Homo sapiens: one gene and its partner. The protein of the gene in region 2 purifies or fractionates together with the protein of the main gene of each other region. This does not show direct contact. Each region holds a gene or a part of one and is shown on either strand. Other genes may lie near its edges.

Region 1 (3,500 bases), on a different chromosome or scaffold from region 2:
TAACTTGTAAAGCGTTTATTTCGTTGATATCTTGTATTGATTCCCATAAGGGACAGCCTAGCACATAGTATCCCCATTTTTCAGGTGAGCAAATTCTGGTACCAAGAGGTTAAACAGTTTACTAATACTTCTTAATATAAGAACAGGGATTGAAATGTGAATATTCTTTTCTCTAAAAATTGGTGCTAATTTGACTCTTCCTTGCAGCCTATTTGGGGGATGTTGTACTCTATAATTCCCCAACCTTTTCCTTTCTCTTCTACAGTTTATTTAACATGAAACACCCACCTTTCTTCATTTGTTTTTATTATATCTTCCACATTAATTAGACAATACTTATTTATTCCTGAGAAGATTATTCAACTTGCTTGACATTGTATTTGGAGAGAGAATATGTGAGGTATTTTTGAAAAGATAATTTTATTTTTGTAATTGCATAATTAATTACATGCTCAAGGCTAAAGATTTCAAAAGAAAAGAAAGCCTAATGAAAATTTAACAACAGTTATCCACACTTTCATTACCAAGAGATCACCAATGTTTAATATTCTGGGGTGCATACTTCTTGAAGTTTTCTGTTCATGGCGTAGTTTTGCTTCTAGGATGCTCTGTCATCTCTGCCTGAGATTACAATACAGTTCTGCCTGCCACACTCAAGATTTAGTTTTGTGTATTGCAGGTGAACAAAAAAAGACTATTAATCTAAGCAAGGCAGGGTCAAGAAGCTACATCAGCTGCTTCATCAAATCACAAAGGAAGCAGACAAAGGAAAGTCAGAAACGTTTTTGAATTTTTTTTCTTCGTTATCTGCATCATCAAAATATTTTCTCTGCTAACATGGATTATAGAACTTCCCCAAACTAGTTGCATTTATGTTTGTTAAAGACCCATGTTATTTTTTTTTTTTCAGGTTTAGAAGATCATGACCACATGGATCATCTAACTAAATGGTACATGGGGACAAAATGGTCCTTTAGAAAATACATCTGAATTGCTGGCTAATTTCTTGATTTGCGACTCAACGTAGGACATCGCTTGTTCGTAGCTATCAGAACCCTCCTGAATTTTCCCCACCATGCTATCTTTATTGGCTTGAACTCCTTTCCTAAAATGGTCCTTCTGTTGATCCTGTCAGTCTTACTTTTGAAAGAAGATGTCCGTGGGAGTGCACAGTCCAGTGAGAGGAGGGTGGTGGCTCACATGCCGGGTGACATCATTATTGGAGCTCTCTTTTCTGTTCATCACCAGCCTACTGTGGACAAAGTTCATGAGAGGAAGTGTGGGGCGGTCCGTGAACAGTATGGCATTCAGAGAGTGGAGGCCATGCTGCATACCCTGGAAAGGATCAATTCAGACCCCACACTCTTGCCCAACATCACACTGGGCTGTGAGATAAGGGACTCCTGCTGGCATTCGGCTGTGGCCCTAGAGCAGAGCATTGAGTTCATAAGAGATTCCCTCATTTCTTCAGAAGAGGAAGAAGGCTTGGTACGCTGTGTGGATGGCTCCTCCTCTTCCTTCCGCTCCAAGAAGCCCATAGTAGGGGTCATTGGGCCTGGCTCCAGTTCTGTAGCCATTCAGGTCCAGAATTTGCTCCAGCTTTTCAACATACCTCAGATTGCTTACTCAGCAACCAGCATGGATCTGAGTGACAAGACTCTGTTCAAATATTTCATGAGGGTTGTGCCTTCAGATGCTCAGCAGGCAAGGGCCATGGTGGACATAGTGAAGAGGTACAACTGGACCTATGTATCAGCCGTGCACACAGAAGGTAAGTTTCCTTTGCATACATCGAGTATATATTATTATGCACTCAACAGTTACAATTTCAGGTTTGGGAAGAGTAAACTATTCCTAATTATTTTGGATATTTTGAATTGTCCGAGTTATACCAGTACTATAAGAACAGACTGGATGGCATATATCTAGAGAGACAAAGACTTAAACTACAGAAGGGTGTATGTGGCCAATATTTGGTGAAATATAATTTTGTTTTCATTGTGAATTACATTATTTACTTCTGCTATACTGATGCTATATTATACTTCTACTCTAATGATTTTTTATATTCATTACTAGAGGTTTTCAAGTCTCTATATCTTCATTGAACACCTCATATTTTTGTCATTTCGCGATTGTTCTAGGTGCCTATTGTTTCTAATAGTTAAAGCAAGGTACACATAAATACACATAGGATTGAAGGTAGTAGCCAGTTCTAACCTAGGTGTGTTGTTATAGAGAATTACCAAAAAGTTTGGTCTTACAGCTATTTTTTCAGAAGAATTCATGGTCAAATCCAAAATGGAGATAAGAATAAATTAATTTTATCCTTGTATAGAACATATTTGAGAAGTATAATTTTAAATAATTCAACATGTTTGTTTTAAAATTTATTGCTTCTTTGTGCTCCAAGAATAGTGAGGAAAGAAAAATCTGACTGATGTTTTATAATAGTTAATAATAAGTAGCCCTTTGTTTTTTATGGTGTTTTAAAAATCATTAGTTCTTGACCATGGCTGTTTGGAAAAAATTTGTTTTGACCTACAGAGGTTGTGACCCAAATGGGCAGACTCGCTTGTTATGCAGCTCTTCTTCTAGAAAAAAAAAAATGTGTATATTAAACACTATAGAATACTGAAGAAGATACAAAATACTTTTTATAAATCATCGAATTATTGTATTTGTTGAGATTCTTAAAATTCTGCATTAACATATCAATATAGTCCAAATATTTCGGTCTGGTAAAATGTGGAATTAAGTTACTAACCCCACTTCAGAGGTTAGGAATATATTTATGCAACACATATTATGCACAAATACATATGCAAGGCTCTCTGACCGTCCTGTGAATGATAGCCCTTTGTTTTCTATATCACAGACTTCAGTGGGATTGCAATCTGGCAAAGGAGATGAGGCATGCACAAATACTTACATAATCATAATTCAAAATGACACAATGTTACAAATCTGACTCTAAAGGAAATTGATGGAGAAAAAAATCACCTCCTCCTCTGTGGTTATGGGGGTCATGGTGGGAATCTTACAGAAGGAAATGGAATTTGACAATTGAAATTTAACAAGAAGAATACTGACAATTGGTGAAAATTAGCAGGGATGGCTTTCAGTGAAAAGCATAAGAAAATATGACTAGGTGAGAAAGTAAAAATGTGCTTGAAAAGGCCAATTGTAAAGGTATGTTTTGGTTTGCATCAAATAAATCATGCATTTTATTAGGGACTCCCTTCTAGCTTCAGAAGATCAGTGCTTGGTCACGGTGTGGCAAGTGCTAATTCAATTGTGCCCCAAGTGAAACTCTTAGTCATGACCTTTGGCTTTTACTAGTTTAAACTGTTGTTTTATCCTAAATTTACCCCAATAACAATCTAATAACCTAATAAAATAAGTTATGATGTATTCAAACAATGCATTATCATTTAGCTATTAAAATAAGTGAGACATTCTACTAGGTAATGATTATAATTTCCAAGATCATCTTAGGT
Region 2 (2,630 bases):
TCACAGAAAGATGGCACCACCTCCTCAGGCAGGAGGCCCCTAAGGCCGGGGTCAGAGCAAAAACACCCCTTCCTTCTGGGTTTCTTTTGTTAAGAACAGAAGGAGGGGGATTCTAGGGGAAGGCCGTGTAGCCCCTGCCCAGATCTGTTTGCGGATACCTCTGTGACCTCTGCTAAAGGGTGCAGCAGGGCAGGTGGCGGGTCACAGTTCTGAGAAGGTAACATACAAAGAGATCTTCCCTTAAAGATGTAGGAAGATAAGGAGGGGGGGAGTTGCTGGGGAAAGCCCCTTCTCCCATAGCCCCTGTGGGCCCTCATAGAAATGCAGGTTGGATTGTGGTGCAGCCAGGCAGCCTGTCCCCTCGAGGACAGGACCCTGGGGAGGGCCCCCGGGGCAGGCAGGGTGTCTGCACATACGCACACACTCTCTCATACACAACACATGCCTGTATGTGTGCACAGGCCTAGCTATGGAGTAGGAAACGAACTCAGACGCCATTCTCATTTGGACAAGCTTAAAACACGATGTGGCTCGTTTTTATTTTATCTCAGAAAAAAACATTCCCTTTAGAAGGAAAGGCAGTTAGACAAGGCCTCTCACTGGGTAGCTCTGCGCTACTCAGCACATGCCAGTGGCCTGCCAGCCCCAACCTCTCCCCTGGGACCTGGGCCCATGCTCTGGCACTGCTCTGTTACAACTCCCTGTCCTTGATCCCAGCTTTGTCACTCCAAGAGATGGCCCTGGGACTGAGAAGTGGATGGCAGCTGTGACAGCAGGAGAGGACTGCCTGAGGCTCCCCGGGCAGAGGCTCTGGTGCCAGGTTAGCAGCAGGACCGACGGCAGACCCAGCAGCCAGAGAGTGAAAGGTAATAAAATAAAAAGGGTTTCCTCACACTTACATTTTTCCTGGAAAAAAGTCAAATGTCACCTCTGGGCCCAGCAGCTCCTGAACCCTAGGAGAGTCTAGGGAGAGTGGTGTGTGGGTGGCAGGAGGCTGTTGGAGCCACTCCCCAGTCTCAGGGCCAGGCCAGTCTGCTGTGCCCAAGCTGCTCTGTGGAGACAAGGTGGTGCTTCCAGATGCTTCTGCAGTGGAGGGCTGGGCCCTGCCCAGCAAAGATGCTGCTGGTGCTGTGGCCCCCACCTGGTGCAAGGCCTCACAGCATGAAACATCTGCTTCCTCAGAACCCAAGCCCTTCTTGCTGGGCCTCATGCTGCTCCAGCCTGGGGCTCCCTTCTCTCAGTCCAAAGTAGGAACCGGCTGCCCTCAGGGTCTCCTGGCACTCTCTCTCTTCTCCCAACGTGACTGGTCAAGCCAACCAGAAAGATAAAGATCTCCTTCCCTTAGGAAGGGGCAAACTCCATGAATCATCAGGACACTCCTGCTCCATCCTGGGCCAGGGGGTCATCTAGGCCAGGGGGCTCTGGGCACACTCCCTTGAGCTCATGGCTAAGGAGCTCCACGTCTGGGAGGCCCGTGTTCCCCTGGGACTCTTGGGCACTCCCTCCACTCACCAGCCCCAGGGCATAGCCATTGGGCCTCCGCTCAGGGTGGGGAGCACTGCCGTTGGCCCACACTCCTGGCGGGTGGCCGTTGAGACGGAGGCTGACCTGCTCTCCGTCACTGCCATGAGCTGCCAAGACCCGGGCACTGGTGCCAGCTGCCTTGAAAGGTTCTTGCTGCCTCAGGACGTGGCTGCGAATGATCTTGCGGAAGGTCTGGCGGAACTCGCGGATACGGTAGGCGTAGATGAAGGGATTCACAACCGAATTGGTGTGGGAGAGGACGATGGCCAGGTACATGAGCCAGAGAGGGGCGTGGCTGCAGTCGGGGCAGAAGAAAGTGAAGCAGTTGATGATGTGTAGGGGCAGCCAGCAGAGGGCAAAGAGCCCCACAATGATGGCCAGTGACTTGGCAGCATGGACCTCCTTCTGCAGTGTGGACCGTGCCCGCTCCCCCGGCAGAGGCTGGCTCTCCATCTGCTTCAGCTGTCGTCGCGCCGCCAGGAAGATCCGCAAATAGACACCCAGCATGAGCAGCAGGGGCACCAGCACACAGGCAAAGAAGTTGAAGTACACCATGTAGTTCATGGGGACCACATCCTCAAAGAGACAGGCCACTTGGCCCTCCCCGCAGCCCTGGGAGTGGTTCTTGCCCTCCTTTGGCTGACCGCAGTTGTTCCAACCTAGCATGGGAGTCAGGCCGATGGCAAACGACAGCACCCAGCAGATGGCAATGATGCCCTTAGCCCTCGTGCCGGTCACCAAGCCATTGTACCTGGGGAGAAGAGACCAGCATCAGAGATCTGAGAAGCCAGGGTTAAGCAGGGCCAAGAGTTCAGAACCCCAGAGCAGCACCCGTTTCCACATTTCCTGACTGTAAGGTCTTGGACCAGTCATTTCCTGCCACCTCGCCCCAGCATCCTCTTCCGTTAAGTGGAAGTAATATGCCTTGCCTTTTTCACAGGCTTCTGGGAGGTAACAGGAGAGCAGGCATCCAAGAAATGGAAACCCATGTACAAATGCCCAGATGGTCATTGAGTAGTTTTCGGAGTAGTCCTGGGACTTAGTTTGGTTGGAGGAAATTAACGCATGATTTTTTGAGGGGGAAAACATGATTTTTCTCTAAAGGG

Evidence for each region. Proteins that work in one complex are often made in the same cells at the same time.
Region 1: the proteins of ADORA2A (region 2) and GRM5 purify together in Homo sapiens (affinity purification with western blotting; one study listed by BioGRID). This does not show direct contact.

Annotation. Positions count from the first base shown.
Region 1 is NC_000011.10:89,045,483-89,048,982, reverse strand, and holds part of GRM5 (metabotropic glutamate receptor 5 isoform a precursor), read left to right. Parts: intron 1-910; 5' UTR 911-1,110; coding exon 1,111-1,771; intron 1,772-3,500. UniProt on the Homo sapiens protein: G-protein coupled receptor for glutamate. Ligand binding causes a conformation change that triggers signaling via guanine nucleotide-binding proteins (G proteins) and modulates the activity of down-stream effectors.
Region 2 is NC_000022.11:24,440,228-24,442,857, reverse strand, and holds the end of ADORA2A (adenosine receptor A2a), read right to left. Parts: intron 2,276-2,630; coding exon 1,369-2,275; 3' UTR 501-1,368; downstream 1-500. UniProt on the Homo sapiens protein: Receptor for adenosine. The activity of this receptor is mediated by G proteins which activate adenylyl cyclase.